Linked DNA regions of Homo sapiens. The protein of the gene in region 5 interacts with the protein of the main gene of each other region in a biochemical or structural test. Each region holds a gene or a part of one and is shown on either strand. Other genes may lie near its edges.

Region 1 (3,516 bases), on a different chromosome or scaffold from region 5:
GTTCTCCCTGGAGTCAGGCTCTTCCGGCAAGTCAAGCTCATCCCTGGTACGAGGCGTGCGTCTCTCCTCCAGCGGCCCCGCCTTGCTCGCCGGCCTCGTGAGTCTAGATCTACCTCTCGACCCACTATGGGAGTTCCCCCGGGACAGGTGCGCTGAGCTGTGTGGGGGCAGGGACGCGGGCGCCGGGTTGCAGCCCGCCCTCCGCAGGAGTGACTCGGAGGTCTGAGGCTGGACTTTCTCCATCTCCAGGCTGGTGCTTGGGAAGCCCCTAGGCGAGGGCTGCTTTGGCCAGGTAGTACGTGCAGAGGCCTTTGGCATGGACCCTGCCCGGCCTGACCAAGCCAGCACTGTGGCCGTCAAGATGCTCAAAGGTGAGTGTGGCCCGGTGTGGTGGCTCACACCTGTAACGCCAGCACTTTAGGAGGCTGAGGGTGGGAGGATCGCTTGAATCCAGGAATTCGAGGCCAGCCTGGGCAACATGGCAAGACTTCATCTCTACAAAAAAAAAATAAGAAAATTAGTTGGGTGTGGTGGTGTGTGCCTTTAGTCTCAGTTACTAGGGAGGCTGAGGCAGGAGGATCCCTTGAATCCAGGAGTTGGAGGTTGCAGGGAGCCATGATCACGCCACTGTATTCCAGCCTGGGCAACACAGTGAGACCCTATCTGAAAAAATAAATAAATAAATAAAAATAAAAGGTGAACGTGGCAGCCTGGAGGAGGTGCTATGGCATTGGGACTAATAGAAGGGGCTCACGGTGCCACCAGGTGAGCCCTGGAGCTGGGAGAGGCTGTGGGATCCCACCCTTAAACCTGCAATTCACCTCTGCTCCTGACCCTGGCAAGTGACTTCTGAGCCTCAGTTTTCCCTTGTGTCATATGGGGTAGATAACAGTCCCTACTCCCAGCCCAAGGATTGTGGAAAGTGCCTGGCTCATAGTCAGGGCTCAATAAATCTTCACCACTGGGGTGATGATGATGAGAAGAATTTGGTGTGACAGGCTTGATATCCTGTGTCAGCATTAGTCTGTGTCAGCTTTGACTTCACATCTCCTTGTCAGCCTCACAGGCCCTCTACCTCCTTCCTTATGGTTCCCCCCAGACACACCCTCAGCCTCCCTTGGACCCTCCCTAGGTCTGCCCCCCACGTCCACTGCTGTAGGAGGACAGCCCTTCTGCTTGCACCCAGGCCCAGCCCCGGGGTGCTCTTGCTGGGCACTCCTGCACCCCACCCATCAGGGCCTCTCCTTGCAGTTCCCCAGCCCCCTCTGCAAGAATGGCCTCCACTGCTCTTCTGCTCCTCCCCTCCTCTCTACACAGCTGGGGCCACCTGGTGCTCCCTGGGAGGCAGGGATTGAGAAATGCACATTGTGTCATTGGCCCAGGGCCACAGGTCAGCCCCAGGGGCTCAGCCAGAGAAGCCAAAGCAGCCTTCTTCCCAAGCTCCCCGGCTGCACCCGGCCTGCCGCCAGCTCCCTGAATTCCCAGGCCAGTTGGAAGCCAGGCCCTGGTCAAACAGACCCCAGGGCGCCAGCCTGCTTTCCGCACCCAGAAGCTCTGACCCCATGCGGGGACTACCGCTGACCCCTCCAGCGGCAGCTTCCTTCCTTCCTTCCTGCTCCGAGCTCTTCCCCTCTCTCCTGTGTCCTGGGCCTGCCCGCTGGAAGGCCTGCCTCTTAGATCCTTGATACAGTTGCATCCTTGCAACTGCTGTGACAGGCAGGGTGTGACCCACTGCTCTGTTTCCCACAAGACGAACCTGAGGTTCAGAGACGCTAGGAGACTTTTTCAAGGCCACACAGCCTAGCAAGGATTCAGCCCTAGACCTACGTAGCCCTGGTCCAGTGCTGCTTGTCCTGCACCTGCCTCTGCATGCTCCCTCGTGCAGTTGGAGGGCAGCCTCTTCACCCCGTCTGCTGCCCTTACAGACAACGCCTCTGACAAGGACCTGGCCGACCTGGTCTCGGAGATGGAGGTGATGAAGCTGATCGGCCGACACAAGAACATCATCAACCTGCTTGGTGTCTGCACCCAGGAAGGTGGGGCCGAGGCGGGGCTGGCTGCACGGGCCGTTAGGGTGCAGAGCCAAAGCTTTGGCAGCCTCTCCACGCTCCCTCCACTCCCTCTGCAGGGCCCCTGTACGTGATCGTGGAGTGCGCCGCCAAGGGAAACCTGCGGGAGTTCCTGCGGGCCCGGCGCCCCCCAGGCCCCGACCTCAGCCCCGACGGTCCTCGGAGCAGTGAGGGGCCGCTCTCCTTCCCAGTCCTGGTCTCCTGCGCCTACCAGGTGGCCCGAGGCATGCAGTATCTGGAGTCCCGGAAGGTACAGGCGCTAGGGCTCTGAGCCCCTCTCAGTCTCTCCAGCTCCACTCTCAGGCCTGTGGCATTCAATGTCCCGACTTCTCCCTCTCTGCTCTTTTTCATGACCCCACCTCAGTGTCCCCAGGCATTCACGCTTTCCTGCATTCCCCACTCGTTCCTCACCCTTCCCCAGAGGGGAGAGGGGACGCAGGAGAAGGCACTCCCCGTTTCTAAACCTTGACCTCCTCCTCTGTAAAGTGGGTGGAGGGCCCCTGCCCCCGGGCCTGCTGGGGGGTGGTGTGTGCTCAACTCCAGGCCAGGTGTCCTGAGGCACCCAAGCCCCCGCTCCCTGCAGTGTATCCACCGGGACCTGGCTGCCCGCAATGTGCTGGTGACTGAGGACAATGTGATGAAGATTGCTGACTTTGGGCTGGCCCGCGGCGTCCACCACATTGACTACTATAAGAAAACCAGCAACGTGAGGGAGATGGGGCAGAACTGGATGGGGGTGGAGGGGCACTGGGCCCGGGGTGGCAGGCACGAGGACCTGTGGGACTCTGCACTGAGGCCCTCTCTCCCCTCCAGGGCCGCCTGCCTGTGAAGTGGATGGCGCCCGAGGCCTTGTTTGACCGGGTGTACACACACCAGAGTGACGTGTGAGTCCTGCCGGCGGTCACTGTCCTACCCCACAAAAAGGGCAAGGCACTGCCCAAAGTCACGTGGCCCCAGGAGTCATGCGCTCGAGGGCTCCTTCAGATTTGGTCTGGGACCCGAGTGGGCCCAGACTCCAGGAGGAGCCCATTCCCCAACAGCTGTGGTGGGTCATGTCTGTGGGGTCCCCCGTCCTAGCCCCGGTCGTCGGGAGGGCGCTGAGCCACACTGAGCCCTGGCCCTACCTCCAGGTGGTCTTTTGGGATCCTGCTATGGGAGATCTTCACCCTCGGGGGCTCCCCGTATCCTGGCATCCCGGTGGAGGAGCTGTTCTCGCTGCTGCGGGAGGGACATCGGATGGACCGACCCCCACACTGCCCCCCAGAGCTGTGAGGCCTCACCCTGCCCTCGACCCCACTTTCCAGTCCTCCTCCTCCTCTGCCCTGACCATGGCCTCAGGGTGTGTCCCGGCCAGAAGGACAACACTAACAACAACTCCTCGTCCTCCTCCTCCTCTTCCTCTTCCTCCTCCTCCTCTTCCTCCTCCTCCTCTTCCTCCTCCTCTTCC
Region 2 (4,272 bases), on a different chromosome or scaffold from region 5:
GGTCAGAAAAACTCCCACAGTACAGGGAAACTGGCCAGGGCTGCAGACTCAGACCACAGTGCTAAAGCCATGAACTCCACCTGCTCTCTGAAGGCTCGCCAACCTGAGTCCAGCAGAATGTTCTCGCTTGTGTCCAACCCCACTGGTTTAGGCTGAATCAGCCTCTAGGGCCCAGAGGCACTGCACCTGGAGTAGGGAGCTTCTCCAGTATCAGAGTCACCTTCAGAGGCCTGGAGCCTTTCATAAAGCAGGTAAGAGGACTCAATAGATGCATCTGCATGGAAAACATCCTCCCCTCTACCAGGCACCTGTATGTACAACCAATCACAGCAGCACACATACACCCAGAAATGGGCACGTGTGGGCCCACACCCCTTTAGCTATGAAACCCAGGCATGGGGCAGCTTGAGCCAGATACCTTGTGCAAACACAAACTCGTGCTGTCTTCTCTGAACTCCATTGTGAAAATCAAACACTTGTCAGCCCCTCAAGAGCCTTTAGATTTCCTACTTCCACACTTCCACAGAAAGGCCTCTGGAGTTGGGGGATGCTGGGGTTATGTAGGAAATTAAGCCTGGAGGGCCTTGCTGGGGAAGCCATTGTCCCTGTACCTGAGATGGATGCAGCCACAGCCCTGGAGCCAGCCTGAAGCTCCTGGTGTCTTCTGGGGGCTACATATAGGAGTGTAGTCCGAACCTCAGAGGGGCAAACCTGCTCTGCAGAGGGAATCAAGGTTCACATAACCAGAGAGGGGAGTCACTCAGGAAGGTGGCTCCAGAGCCAAGAGTCAGACTCTGGGTCCCGACTTGACCCAGCCACACCCCCTCTGAAGCTTGCTGAGAGTGGCTGCAGTCTCGCTGCTGGATGTGCACATGGTGGTCATTCCCTCTGCTCACAGGGGCAGGGGTCCCCCCTTACTGGACTGAGGTTGCCCCCTGCTCCAGGTCCTGGGTGGGAGCCCATGTGAACTGTCAGTGGGGCAGGTCTGTGAGAGCTCCCCTCACACTCAAGTCTCTCACAGTGGCCAGAGAAGAGGAAGGCTGGAGTCAGAATGAGGCACCAGGGCGGGCATAGCCTGCCCAAAGGCCCCTGGGATTACAGGCAGGATGGGGAGCCCTATCTAAGTGTCTCCCACGCCCCACCCCAGCCATTCCAGGCCAGGAAGTCCAAACTGTGCCCCTCAGAGGGAGGGGGCAGCCTCAGGCCCATTCAGACTGCCCAGGGAGGGCTGGAGAGCCCTCAGGAAGGCGGGTGGGTGGGCTGTCGGTTCTTGGAAAGGTTCATTAATGAAAACCCCCAAGCCTGACCACCTAGGGAAAAGGCTCACCGTTCCCATGTGTGGCTGATAAGGGCCAGGAGATTCCACAGTTCAGGTAGTTCCCCCGCCTCCCTGGCATTTTGTGGTCACCATTAATCATTTCCTCTGTGTATTTAAGAGCTCTTTTGCCAGTGAGCCCAGTACACAGAGAGAAAGGCTAAAGTTCTCTGGAGGATGTGGCTGCAGAGCCTGCTGCTCTTGGGCACTGTGGCCTGCAGCATCTCTGCACCCGCCCGCTCGCCCAGCCCCAGCACGCAGCCCTGGGAGCATGTGAATGCCATCCAGGAGGCCCGGCGTCTCCTGAACCTGAGTAGAGACACTGCTGCTGAGATGGTAAGTGAGAGAATGTGGGCCTGTGCCTAGGCCACCCAGCTGGCCCCTGACTGGCCACGCCTGTCAGCTTGATAACATGACATTTTCCTTTTCTACAGAATGAAACAGTAGAAGTCATCTCAGAAATGTTTGACCTCCAGGTAAGATGCTTCTCTCTGACATAGCTTTCCAGAAGCCCCTGCCCTGGGGTGGAGGTGGGGACTCCATTTTAGATGGCACCACACAGGGTTGTCCACTTTCTCTCCAGTCAGCTGGCTGCAGGAGGAGGGGGTAGCAACTGGGTGCTCAAGAGGCTGCTGGCCGTGCCCCTATGGCAGTCACATGAGCTCCTTTATCAGCTGAGCGGCCATGGGCAGACCTAGCATTCAATGGCCAGGAGTCACCAGGGGACAGGTGGTAAAGTGGGGGTCACTTCATGAGACAGGAGCTGTGGGTTTGGGGCGCTCACTGTGCCCCGAGACCAAGTCCTGTTGAGACAGTGCTGACTACAGAGAGGCACAGAGGGGTTTCAGGAACAACCCTTGCCCACCCAGCAGGTCCAGGTGAGGCCCCACCCCCCTCTCCCTGAATGATGGGGTGAGAGTCACCTCCTTCCCTAAGGCTGGGCTCCTCTCCAGGTGCCGCTGAGGGTGGCCTGGGCGGGGCAGTGAGAAGGGCAGGTTCGTGCCTGCCATGGACAGGGCAGGGTCTATGACTGGACCCAGCCTGTGCCCCTCCCAAGCCCTACTCCTGGGGGCTGGGGGCAGCAGCAAAAAGGAGTGGTGGAGAGTTCTTGTACCACTGTGGGCACTTGGCCACTGCTCACCGACGAACGACATTTTCCACAGGAGCCGACCTGCCTACAGACCCGCCTGGAGCTGTACAAGCAGGGCCTGCGGGGCAGCCTCACCAAGCTCAAGGGCCCCTTGACCATGATGGCCAGCCACTACAAGCAGCACTGCCCTCCAACCCCGGTGAGTGCCTACGGCAGGGCCTCCAGCAGGAATGTCTTAATCTAGGGGGTGGGGTCGACATGGGGAGAGATCTATGGCTGTGGCTGTTCAGGACCCCAGGGGGTTTCTGTGCCAACAGTTATGTAATGATTAGCCCTCCAGAGAGGAGGCAGACAGCCCATTTCATCCCAAGGAGTCAGAGCCACAGAGCGCTGAAGCCCACAGTGCTCCCCAGCAGGAGCTGCTCCTATCCTGGTCATTATTGTCATTATGGTTAATGAGGTCAGAGGTGAGGGCAAACCCAAGGAAACTTGGGGCCTGCCCAAGGCCCAGAGGAAGTGCCCAGGCCCAAGTGCCACCTTCTGGCAGGACTTTCCTCTGGCCCCACATGGGGTGCTTGAATTGCAGAGGATCAAGGAAGGGAGGCTACTTGGAATGGACAAGGACCTCAGGCACTCCTTCCTGCGGGAAGGGAGCAAAGTTTGTGGCCTTGACTCCACTCCTTCTGGGTGCCCAGAGACGACCTCAGCCCAGCTGCCCTGCTCTGCCCTGGGACCAAAAAGGCAGGCGTTTGACTGCCCAGAAGGCCAACCTCAGGCTGGCACTTAAGTCAGGCCCTTGACTCTGGCTGCCACTGGCAGAGCTATGCACTCCTTGGGGAACACGTGGGTGGCAGCAGCGTCACCTGACCCAGGTCAGTGGGTGTGTCCTGGAGTGGGCCTCCTGGCCTCTGAGTTCTAAGAGGCAGTAGAGAAACATGCTGGTGCTTCCTTCCCCCACGTTACCCACTTGCCTGGACTCAAGTGTTTTTTATTTTTCTTTTTTTAAAGGAAACTTCCTGTGCAACCCAGATTATCACCTTTGAAAGTTTCAAAGAGAACCTGAAGGACTTTCTGCTTGTCATCCCCTTTGACTGCTGGGAGCCAGTCCAGGAGTGAGACCGGCCAGATGAGGCTGGCCAAGCCGGGGAGCTGCTCTCTCATGAAACAAGAGCTAGAAACTCAGGATGGTCATCTTGGAGGGACCAAGGGGTGGGCCACAGCCATGGTGGGAGTGGCCTGGACCTGCCCTGGGCCACACTGACCCTGATACAGGCATGGCAGAAGAATGGGAATATTTTATACTGACAGAAATCAGTAATATTTATATATTTATATTTTTAAAATATTTATTTATTTATTTATTTAAGTTCATATTCCATATTTATTCAAGATGTTTTACCGTAATAATTATTATTAAAAATATGCTTCTACTTGTCCAGTGTTCTAGTTTGTTTTTAACCATGAGCAAATGCCAGTGGTGCCTGCCTTCCCATGAGGCAGGGGAGGGAGGAAACGGGGAGGTGGAGAGGGGGCGGGGGCCTCCCAGGCGTTGGGCACTATCCAAGGGCCAACACTGTCAGAGCAGAGGGGAGGTGAGAGCCGGGCATAGGTGCGGAATTCTGCACACCTGGACGGGCTTCCCGGGATGCTCCAGGGCTCCCACCCCAGAGAATGGCTCTCAAGTTCACCTGGAAGTCCAAGTGACCAGCCCAGGGAACTCTTATCCCAGAGAAGGGCACCACCCTTCCTGGGGAGGCCTGGGGGTTGGCTGGTCACTGGCTGAACAGGCCCACTCTGGCATCAGGCAAAACACCTGCCCTGTAGAGGCCTTGGCCCCTGTGCCCCACGCCCTGCCCCTCACACTCTG
Region 3 (3,516 bases), on a different chromosome or scaffold from region 5:
CCAACCAGCATTAACATCAACACAGACCTTAAGTCTGATAAGAAACAATTACCATCTAGTCTCTCTGAAGCCTGCTACCTGGAGGCTTCATCTTCATGATAAAACTTTGGTCTCCACAACTCCTTATGTAACCCAGACATTCCTTTCTATTGATAACAGCTCATTCAACCAATTGCCAATCAGAAAATTGTAAAATCTACCTATGACCCGGAAGCACCTCCCCGTCCCACTTTTAGTTGTCCTGCCTTTCCAGATTGAGCCAATGTAAATCTCACATGTATTGATTGATGTCTTACGTCTCCCTAAAATGTATAAAAGCAAGTTGTACCCCATCCACCTTGGGCCCATGTCATCAGGATCTCCTGAGTCTGTGTCACTGGCACATCCTTAACCTTGGCAAAATAAACTTTCTAAACTGATTGAAATCTGTCTCAGATACTTTTGGGTTCAAAACTCTCAGCTCCTGTCTTCTTCACATCTTCCATCATGTTGTCATTGATTTGTCATTTGCGTAATTCCTTGTTCAATGTTTATCTCCCCAACCCACCCTCTGCCATAAGCTAAGCTCCATGAAGTCATGTCTGTCTTATACCTCCATGTGTTTCTAGTGACCAGCACCTAGTGGACACTCAATATATGTTTCAAGAAAAGCCTAAGATAGGCTGGGCACGGAGGCTCACACCTGCAATCCCAGCACTTTGGGAGGCCAAGGCAGGCAGATCACAAGGTCAGGAGATCGAGATCATCCTGGCTAACATGGTGAAACCCCATCTCTACTAAAATTACAAAAAATTAGCTGGGCGTGGTGGCGGGCACCTGTAGTCCCAGCTACTCGGGAGGCTGAGGCAGGAGAATTGCTTGAACCCAGGAGGCAGAGGTTGCAGTGAGCCGAGATCACACCACTGCACTCCAGCCTGGGTGACAGAGCAAGACTCCGTCTCAAAAAAAAAAAAAAAAAAAAAAGGCCTAAGATGAAACATGGAGCCAAGACAAGGAAGTCATAAGGTGAACAATGGAAAGGAAAGATGTGTGTGTGGTCCAAAGGACACATCTCTTTCTCGCTAAACCAGTTTGATTTTTATTTTCTTTCACTTGAAGCTGAAAAGGTCCTGAATGAGACAATTCAGATATGAGACAATTTATCTTAAAGAAGTAATAGCAGCCCAATTGCCACTTCTCCCAAAGTTATAGTGCCAGGTTAAGCTATTTCTTCTGACTCCTTGACTCAGTTAACTGTGAAACAGTTGCCAAGGGGGCTTACCCAGCCTCTCTGTTGGTAACATTGGAGGATATATATATATATATATATATATATATATATATATATATTTTTTTTTTTTTTTGCCATAGGAAGGGAGCAAAATAAAATCTTCAGGACAAAGGAGACACAGCAGCTGACTATGAAAACAACACCCCAGTACATCTATGATCTGTGGCCAGACTTGCTAAGGACTCCCAAGGAAGCGGTAGCTTCTCAGACACCATCTGACAGTGGGTTGCTCATATCTTTCAGGTGAAGTGTACAAGCCACTCTAGTGTCCATGGAGCCAGTCATGGAACTGTCTTTGCAGAAATTGTAACAGGGAGAAAATGATGACGTCAGTGAAAGAGATTTGATCTAACCAACCCCCAGCTTGCCTTTAACCTCCAAACTGCCCTTACGCTTTCCTGGGCTCGGGCCAAGTTAACTTTGTGACAAATTTAGTGTTTATTTTATTTTATTTCATTTTATTTTGAGATGGAGTCTTGCTCTGTCACCCAGGCTGGAGTGCAGTGGCATGATCTCGGCTCACTGCAACCTCCGCCTCCCTGGTTCAAGTGATCCTCACATGCCAGCACACCCAACTAATTTTTGTATTTTTAGTACAGACAGGGTTTCACCATGTTGGCCAGGATGGTCTCGATCTCCCGATCTCGTGATCCACCCACCTCGGCCTCCCAAAGTGCTGGGAATACAGGGGTGAGCCACTGCGCCCGGCCTAGTGTACATTTTAAATGATAATAGCCCTTGCCCAAAACTAAACTACCTTCATAAAGCTAATGAGGGACCATGAGGTTAGGAGGATGAGAGGAGCCTGAATTCTGCTAAGGTGTAGACATAAAGGATTACCAGCCATTATTCCAGAGGTCACAAGATTTGCAACTTTCCCAATGACCCCCGCAGATAAGATCACTATTGTAGACTGGCCTTTTGAGATGTCTCTTCAGGTTTTTTTGCATTTCTCGTAACCAATGGCTCCACCCCGACCAGACCGCCAACCTAACTTTGAAAGAAATTTGTTGTATATTTTAAATTATGACAGCCCTTTCCCAAAACTAAACTGCCTTTGTAAAACTAATGAAATATTGCCAAGTTAGGAGAATGAAAGGAGCCTGAATTCTGCTAAGATGTAGACATGGATTATTATCAGCCTTTATCCCAGAGCTCACAACACTTCCAACTTCCTAAGTTACTCCTACAGATAACATCACTACTGTAGAACTTGAGATTGGCCTTTTGAGATGTCTTTTCAGGCTTTTGCCTTCCTGACAACCAGACTGCCCCACCTGGACCTGCCAACTAGTCCTGTGGCCCCACCCAGAAGTGGACTCAGTGCACGAGGACCATTTTTCACACCCCTATTACTGCATCCCCAACCAGTCAGCAGCACCCATTCCCTAGCCACCCTACTCCTTGCCAAACTATCTTTGAAAAGCCCTAGCTTCCAAATTTTCAGGGAGGCTGATTTGAGTCATAAAAAAACTCTGTTCTCCCATTTAGCTGGCTCTATGTGTGTAAAACTCTTTCCCTATTGCAATTCTCCCATCTTGATAAATCGGCTCTGTCTGGGCAGCAGGCACAAAGAAGCCACTGGGCAGTTACAGTCTCATCATGTAGTTTAGTAAATTGGCCCAGATGTAATAAAATAGGGAGTGGTGAGGACGGTGACAAATAGAAAATCCATGTCCTGTCTAAAGGGGGCATTAACTATTCAACTGTTCTCAATTGTTGCCTTCTAGCCCCAGATTTTTAAAATACTAGAACTAATTCCCTCCCTCCCTCCTTCTGTCCCTCCTTCCCTTCCTCCCTTCCTTCCTTCCTGCTTTCCGTCTTTCTTTCTTCTTTCTTTCTTCTTCCTTTCCCTTTCCCTTTTTCTTCCTTTCCTTCCTTCCTTCCTTCCTTCCTTCCTTCCTTCCTTCCTTCCTCCCTCCCTTCCTTCATTCCTTCTCTCTCTCTCTCTTTCTTTTTTATCACTCTGTCACCCAGGCTGGAGTGCAGTGGCTCAATCTCTGACCACCTTGCTCACTGCAACCTCTGCCTCCAGGGTTCAAGTGATCCTCCCATCTCAGCCTCCTGAGTAGCTGGAACTACAGGCACACACCACCATGCCCAGCTAATTTTTCATGTTTTTGATAGAGATGGGGTTTCACCATGTTGCCCAGACTGGTCTTAAACTCCTGAGCTCAAGTGATCTACCTGCCTCGGCCTCCCAGAGTGCTGGGATGACAGGTGTCAGACACGAGGCCTGGCCTCTT
Region 4 (3,516 bases), on a different chromosome or scaffold from region 5:
TATTGTGTTTTTTCTAAAACCAATTGATCCTCTTAAGACAGCTTTCCTTTCAGAATAACACAACAGGATGTGTTGATCTTTTCTTTTTTCTTTTTTTTTTTTTTTTTTTTTTTGAGACGGAGTCTCACTCTGTCACCCAGGCTGGAGTGCAGTGGCGCAATCTCGGCTCACTGCAAGCTCTGCCTCCCGGGTTCACGCCATTCTCCTGCCTCAGCCTCCCGAGTAGCTGGGACTACAGGCACCCGCCACCACGCCCGGCTAATTTTTTGTATTTTTAGTAGAGACGGGGTTTCACCGTGTTAGCCAGGATGGTCTCGATCTCCTGACCTTGTGATCCACCCGCCTTGGCCTCCCAAAGTGCTGGGATTACAGGCGTGAGCCACCGCGCCCGGCCGATCTTTTCTTTCAACTTTTAGATATCTGTTCTCTTGAAGGCCAGGGCCCACCGCAGAACAGAATCAGGGCTGAGGCTAGACCAAAGGTACACTGAATTCAGTGCCTCCCTAAGTGCTGCTGAACACTAGAACCCAAAGATGTTCACAGACAAAGAATCCCAAGGTCAAACGTACTAGGGAGACATGGCGCCCATCCCCTACACTCTACCATGGAGAGTATGATGTAAAGGAACACACAGATTCTGCAGAGCAGGTTCCATTTTGTTTAACCCATTGCTTCTCAAACTTTTTTGAACAATGGAATCTTTTCAGTATTGGCAATATTCATATATAGCTAACATTTATTGAGTGTTTATCCCCATTTAATTCCCACCTACACTTTTAATCTATTTTGGTAGACTGACATTTATAATTTTTTTTATTTTTTATTTTATTTTATTTTTTTGAGATGGGGTCTCGCTGTATCACCCAGGCTGGAGTGCAGTGGTGCGATCTCGGGTCACTGCAAACTCCACCTCCCGGGTTCATGCCATTCTCCTGCCTCAGCCTCCCGAGTAGCTGGGACTACAGGCGCCCGCCACAACGCCTGGTTAATTTTTTGTATTTTTAGTAGAGATGGGGTTTCACCGTGTTAGCCAGGATGGTCTTGATCTCCTGACCTCGTGATCCGCCTGCCTCGGCCTCCCAAAGTGCTGGGATTACAGGCGTGAGCCACCGCGCGTGGCCGATGTTTATAATTTTTTTTGGCCAGTAGCAATTTTATTAATGATAATAAAATAACTCAAAGATATTATCAAATCTAATCTTGTTCACCTTCATAAGTGCTCAAAGCAAGACAAAAACTCATCAAAAGAAGAAAAATTAGAACAATTAATATTTTTAATTGAAGGATGGCTGAGACACTACGTAATGATGTTGGCACATCATATAGTAAAAAGTTAATCAAAACATATTAAAAATAATGAGAGGAGTGCACGTCCTTGTTGGCCATATTTCTCTCTTCAGATTTTTATGAAACATTTATGACGTAAAAATCTTTTTCTCATGCCAAAAATGATTAAAACTTGTTTTTTAAAAAGAATGCTTAGATATCATGTCTTTCATGGCCATCTCTAAGTCCTCTCTGAATTTCTAAAATTTCGAATGCCAATACATGAAGGAAATAATTGTGTGTTACTTTATAGAATGTAACAAAGTTTGCCAGAGCATAGAAACCACATATAAAGGATGGTTTCCACTACAAAAAGAGTTCAATGTCGGGACAGGGAAGTATATTTCATTCAAAAACAAACAAACAAAAAATCCAAATGCACTTTTTTTGTCCTTTCCTAGCAGAAGAACCAGGTAGTCATATAATTAATTATAACTCTCATTTCCTTTCAAATGAACTTTGGATATTCAAAATACGTGTGTGTGTGCGTGTGTGCGTGATCTATCCATGGTAAGTTTTATGATGCTAGCATTCTTTAAAACTCAGTTTTATCTTTTGGAGATAAATCTGGCTTTTTTCCCCCTAAGGTTTATTTGTATGTCATTTTTCTTTTTTTCTGAAAAATTTAAAACTTGACATTAAAAAAAGTTTTAACAACCAATAATGTGTAAATTATCTTAGGTTATTAGCTGAAACACTGCAAATTATCCTCAAATGGCATGTCAAAGGAAAGATGGATTTGCGGAAATATTTCTTGACCTGCTTCCCCATTTCCCGCCCCTGCTCGTCCTGTGCCTCACCGCTCGATGTGGTCTGCACAGAGGTGTGCCTCTCACACTTCCACTCTCCTCGGCCGTTGCCTGTGCAGATGCACTGGAGCAGGTTTCCTCGATTATCCTTCTTGCTCCAGGTGTCTCCAATTCTATAGGATGTCCTTGTGTCCTGATCGTTGCATCTATCTGTGTCACAAAGGAAGCACATACATACATCAGGTCGAGAGTCGCAAGTGGTCAATTCAAACTTAAAAAAGGAATGCTATCTATGCCTGGTAATCTATTTTTGGTAATATGTTCATATTCAGCTCTGGTGCTGCAAGGTATTACACTTCTGAAAGATGAAATTACATTTGTTACAGTGGAAAGGCAGCTGAATGGTTTAGTCTAGTTTCATCTCTCTGTCAAATAACATTTTCATTTATCTATTTATTTATTGTTTTCACACTGTTCCTTTGACTAACTTCATTCTCTGGCATTATATTTCATCTTTTTCCTTCTCAGGCTCTTCCAGGATTTTTCTTAGTCATCACTGTTTATGGCCTGCCTTTCAATAGGGACCTTGCTTTAGAAAACTAAAAACAGGCTAAGCGCGGTGGCTCACGCCTGTAATCCTAGTACTTTAGGAGGGTGGATCACCTGCAGTCAGGAGTTCAAGACCAGCCTGGGCAACATGGTGAAACCCCCGTCTCTACTAAAAATACCAAAAAAAATTAGCCGGCTGTGGTGGCGGGCGCCTGTAATCCAAGCTACTCGGGAAGCTGAGGCAAGAGAATCGCTTGAACCCGGGAGGTGGAGGTTGCAATGAGCTGAGATCACACCATTGCACTCCAGCCTGGGCGACAGGGTGAGACTGTCTCAAAAACAAAACAAAACAAAACAAAACAAAAAAAACAAGCAAACAAAAAAAAGCTTATAACAATGGGGAGGCAAGCAGGTATCAAAGGGTCTTCACCAATGGCTACAAAGAAGCTATAAGAAGGTGGTAGTATCTCTTTCTTCATTTGTTATGTAAAAAATGTAGAGGATGCACAATTTCTTTGACTAAAATATTATTTTCCCTTCCCCTATACCCAAACATCTACAGTATTTAAAAATCACTAGCAAAATAGCCCCAAATTATTCAGTGTTAGCCCTCCACTGGAAGAGTGGGATCAACATAAAATGATAATTTGTAACTAAATGACCATTAGTCTATGCGTGCATTTATCTGGTAAATAGATTATTTAAATTATAATCCAAATTTGCTCTGTGCCACGATGTGAGTATAGAGGATCTGATGTCTTTGTGAATTGGATATTGTTGCAACTCCTGGGTTAGAGAAAAAAAATTAATAGTTGATGTAGGTTCAAACAAATACACACCCACATCCATCTACCACAAGAATAGAAGTTTGCATGAAGGTATAATTACTGAT
Region 5 (3,516 bases):
TTTATAACATATCTTTCTCTGAAGGATCAGCAGAACTTACTTAAACAACAATCTAGCTCTGGTGCCATTTTTTGATTGAAATTTTTGTTGAGATAACTATAGACTCACACACAGTGTAAGAAATAATACAAAGATCTCTTGTGCCCCTTCCTAGTTTCCGCCAATGGTAACATTTATAAAACTACAGTAAACATCACAACAATGATATTGATATTGATACAATCTACCAATCTTATTCTGATTTTCCTAGTTTTACCTGTATTCATGCTGTGTATGTTTGTGTATGTGTATCTACACAGTTCTATGACATGTATGGATTTGTATATATACATTATCTTTATACACACACACACCTTTTAAAATATAACCAAGGTCTCACTATACATAGGTTTATATCTAACTTTTTGTGTACTATAGTTTCTAAGTTATAAATACCCTTCAAATAAATCTTTAATGGCCACATGATATTCAGTGTCTAAATTAGAATCTTATTTAACAATTACTCTATTATTGTACACTTGGGTTGTTTCCATTTTTTTAACTATTATAAGTAAGAGACTTCAACAAAGACATTAAATACTATTTACCTGGTAATGATTTCCTTTGGACAGATTTGTGGAGGTAAAATTACTGGGAAAGATGAGCTTTTCACATCTTAACACGGATTTGTCCTGTCCCTGTAAGGAACCTTTCATCAGCCAGAAATAATAAATGGCATATTTTCTCACATCATCCACTTTTAGAGAAAAGCTGACTACAAACATATTCCCAATATCTCAGCGTAGAACTAGTCTACCCCAAGACAAGAAGAAAGCCCCTGTTATGAAAAAGTAGGCCTTAGCATGCATATGCTGAGCCACCCTCTGGGCTAGAGCTTATCAGATGAGCCCAACTAATGTGTGTGCCAAGCCCTTATTCTTCAGAGAAGCAGAAAGCCAGGAATTATAACTAGCATGTGACACAACGCATGGACATTCCCTTATGCTAAAAAGTCCCTACTTATTGTGTCTCACATAATCCTAAAAACTTATTTTAGGATATTCAGTTTTACAGATGAGAAAACTGAGCCCAGAAGGTTAAAAAACTTGCCCAAGGTTACATAATAAGTGTATCCAAACCCAGGCAACACTACCATAGTCTGCTCATTTAGATTCTTGCTTGTGGTCTGCACAGTACTCAGACCAGGCTCAAGTGCTCTAGAGAGGGACCAAACGGAAGGCACCAGTTAAAAGCCCCACTCTGGAAATGGAGATCCAGGCCAGAAACCATATGAGGAGACTAAAACACTTTATGAGATTTATAGTTTAAAAAGACCCCCAGTATATCAAGTCATGTAGTCTTCTATCTAGAATGAAAGTTATTTTTACCACGCAGCTGTTCTTTATGTTACACTGGCTTGTATCAGAAAATATATAAAAAAATACTAGTGATATGGTTTGGCTGTGTGTTCACCCAAATCTCACCTTGAACTGTAATAATCCCCATATTTCAAGGGCGGGGCCAGGTGGAGATAACTGAAACATGGGGGCGGTTTCCCCTATACTTTTCTTGTGGTAGTAAGTCTCACAAGATCTGGTGGTTTCATAAATGGGAGTTCCCCTGTACAAGCTCTCTTGCCTGCCACCATGTAGGACGTGCCTTTGCTTCTCCTTTGCCTTCCACCATGATTGTGAGGTCTCCCCAGCCATGTGGAACTGTGAGTCCATCAAACATCTTTCCTTTATAAATTACCTAGTCTTGGGTATGTCTTTATTAGCAGAGTGAGAACAGACTAATACAAATAGACATTAGATCACGAATACGCAGGACAATGTATACCACTCCTAGTAAACAATGAACACTCAGTTCAAGGTAACAGGTTACCATGAGCTATTAGAAATTACTTGCCTTTCTGTAAGGTGAATAAATTCCATGTTTCAATAATAAAATTAGAAGTATTTGACAGGGGATTAATAATTACTTATTAAGTTAATCTTCACATTTCTCCTACCACACCCTAAAGTGCAGAAAAAGTAAATATTAAGGAGAGAGAGTTTTTCTCGTTCAACTCCATCATTTTAGAGATGAGAAAACTGAGGTCTCACAGGGATTAAGACAGTTAATTACATGTGTATAAAACCTTGCTTTTGCCTTGACTTAAAATGTTGTATATTTAGTCTACTGTATTTATATTTAATAACAAATTACACATAAATACATACTTAACTCAGCTGGTTGCAGTGGCTCACGTCTGCAATCCCAGCACTTTGGGAGGCTGAGGCAGGCGGATCAGTTGAGGTCAAGAGTTCAAGACCAGCCTGGCCAACATGGTGAAATCCCGTCTCTACTAAAAATACAAAAAAAGAATAGCCAGGCGTGGTGGTGTGCACTGTAATCCCAGCTACTCGGGAGGTTGAGGCAGGAGATTCACTTGAACGGGGGGAGGAGGTTGCAGTGAGCCTCATTTATGCCACTGCACTCCAGCCTGGGCGACGGAGTGAGACTCTGTCTCAAAAAAAAAAAAAAAAAAAAAAAAAAAAAGAAATACGTATTTAACTTTTCCCTTAAAAAAAATTTTCCTTTAATAATTGCGTATCTTGTCCCGTGTGTCATTCTTATACCATGAGACTAAATTCTATTAATTGCACACACTCCTTAAACATCACGGTTACTTGTATTTAATATACCTGTGTAATCATAAAAAAAAACACCAAAATGCTTTGTAGAGAGCATACTTACTGAGTCTTTGTGACATTTTTCACAAAATAGACTGAATAGTAGAGAAAAAAACTGTGAAAACATGTCTTTAATAACATTTTTCCATTTTTCCAAGACTATGCATTGGCTATCACGCCACCAGCTGCATACTCATTGGCTTCACTCTGCTGATGTGAAATGCAAATGGAAAATCTCCAAAGATTTCAAGGCTTCTCTCTTCTCCCACTCCTACCAATTCTTTGAGATACTTGAGAAAAACAGACATTCACAATTCTATTTCAACAGTGTCCTCTCCCATTCAGAGGCATTCACCCCTCCATCCTTGTTGCTAAAGCTAATGCTGCCTAGAAACAGACTTATCAAAATGCAGTTGAGATTTTTAATAGTAAGACCTAAAGCCCAATGGCTAAAAGAAGAAATTTAATGCATTTCCACTCTTTTTTTTTTTTTTTTTTTTGAGATGGAGTCTCACTCTGTCGCCCAGGCTGCAGTGCCATGGCATGATCTCGGCTCATTGCAACCTCCGTCTCCTGTGTTCAAGCAATTCTCCTGCCTCAGCCTCCCAAGTAGCTGGGATTATAGGTGCCCATCACCACGCCCGGCTAATTTTTATATTTTTAGTAGAGACGGGGTTTCACCATGTTGGCCAGGCTGGTCTCGAATTCCTGACCTCAGGTGATTGGCCCACCTCGGCCTCCCAAAGTGCTGGGATTACAGGCATGAGATATCGCGCCAGGCCACATTTCCACACTTAAAAAATAAAAATAATCCCTTTTCTGCCCCCAGATCCCCAAAATATACTCACTACCCCTGCCACCT

The links.
Region 1: the proteins of SDC2 (region 5) and FGFR4 form a complex in vitro, tested with the Homo sapiens proteins (one large-scale study listed by IntAct).
Region 2: the proteins of SDC2 (region 5) and CSF2 form a complex in vitro, tested with the Homo sapiens proteins (one study listed by BioGRID).
Region 3: of the proteins of SDC2 (region 5) and PRKCB, one has a biochemical effect on the other in vitro, tested with the Homo sapiens proteins (one study listed by BioGRID).
Region 4: the proteins of SDC2 (region 5) and FN1 form a complex in vitro, tested with the Homo sapiens proteins (one study listed by BioGRID).

The regions. Positions count from the first base shown.
Region 1 is NC_000005.10:177,093,405-177,096,920, forward strand, and holds part of FGFR4 (fibroblast growth factor receptor 4 isoform 1 precursor), read left to right. Parts: coding exon of another isoform or gene 1-1; coding exon 2-147; intron 148-249; coding exon 250-371; intron 372-1,925; coding exon 1,926-2,036; intron 2,037-2,128; coding exon 2,129-2,319; intron 2,320-2,652; coding exon 2,653-2,775; intron 2,776-2,882; coding exon 2,883-2,953; intron 2,954-3,199; coding exon 3,200-3,337; intron 3,338-3,516. UniProt on the Homo sapiens protein: Tyrosine-protein kinase that acts as a cell-surface receptor for fibroblast growth factors and plays a role in the regulation of cell proliferation, differentiation and migration, and in regulation of lipid metabolism, bile acid biosynthesis, glucose uptake, vitamin D metabolism and phosphate homeostasis.
Region 2 is NC_000005.10:132,072,332-132,076,603, forward strand, and holds CSF2 (granulocyte-macrophage colony-stimulating factor precursor), read left to right. Parts: upstream 1-1,457; 5' UTR 1,458-1,492; coding exon 1,493-1,651; intron 1,652-1,749; coding exon 1,750-1,791; intron 1,792-2,478; coding exon 2,479-2,604; intron 2,605-3,413; coding exon 3,414-3,521; 3' UTR 3,522-3,839; downstream 3,840-4,272. UniProt on the Homo sapiens protein: Cytokine that stimulates the growth and differentiation of hematopoietic precursor cells from various lineages, including granulocytes, macrophages, eosinophils and erythrocytes.
Region 3 is NC_000016.10:24,094,480-24,097,995, reverse strand, and holds part of PRKCB (protein kinase C beta type), read right to left. Parts: intron 1-3,516. UniProt on the Homo sapiens protein: Calcium-activated, phospholipid- and diacylglycerol (DAG)-dependent serine/threonine-protein kinase involved in various cellular processes such as regulation of the B-cell receptor (BCR) signalosome, oxidative stress-induced apoptosis, androgen receptor-dependent transcription regulation, insulin signaling and endothelial cells proliferation.
Region 4 is NC_000002.12:215,426,054-215,429,569, forward strand, and holds part of FN1 (fibronectin isoform 1 precursor), read right to left. Parts: intron 2,286-3,516; coding exon 2,127-2,285; intron 1-2,126. UniProt on the Homo sapiens protein: Fibronectins bind cell surfaces and various compounds including collagen, fibrin, heparin, DNA, and actin. Fibronectins are involved in cell adhesion, cell motility, opsonization, wound healing, and maintenance of cell shape.
Region 5 is NC_000008.11:96,500,300-96,503,815, reverse strand, and holds part of SDC2 (syndecan-2 precursor), read right to left. Parts: intron 1-3,516. UniProt on the Homo sapiens protein: Cell surface proteoglycan which regulates dendritic arbor morphogenesis.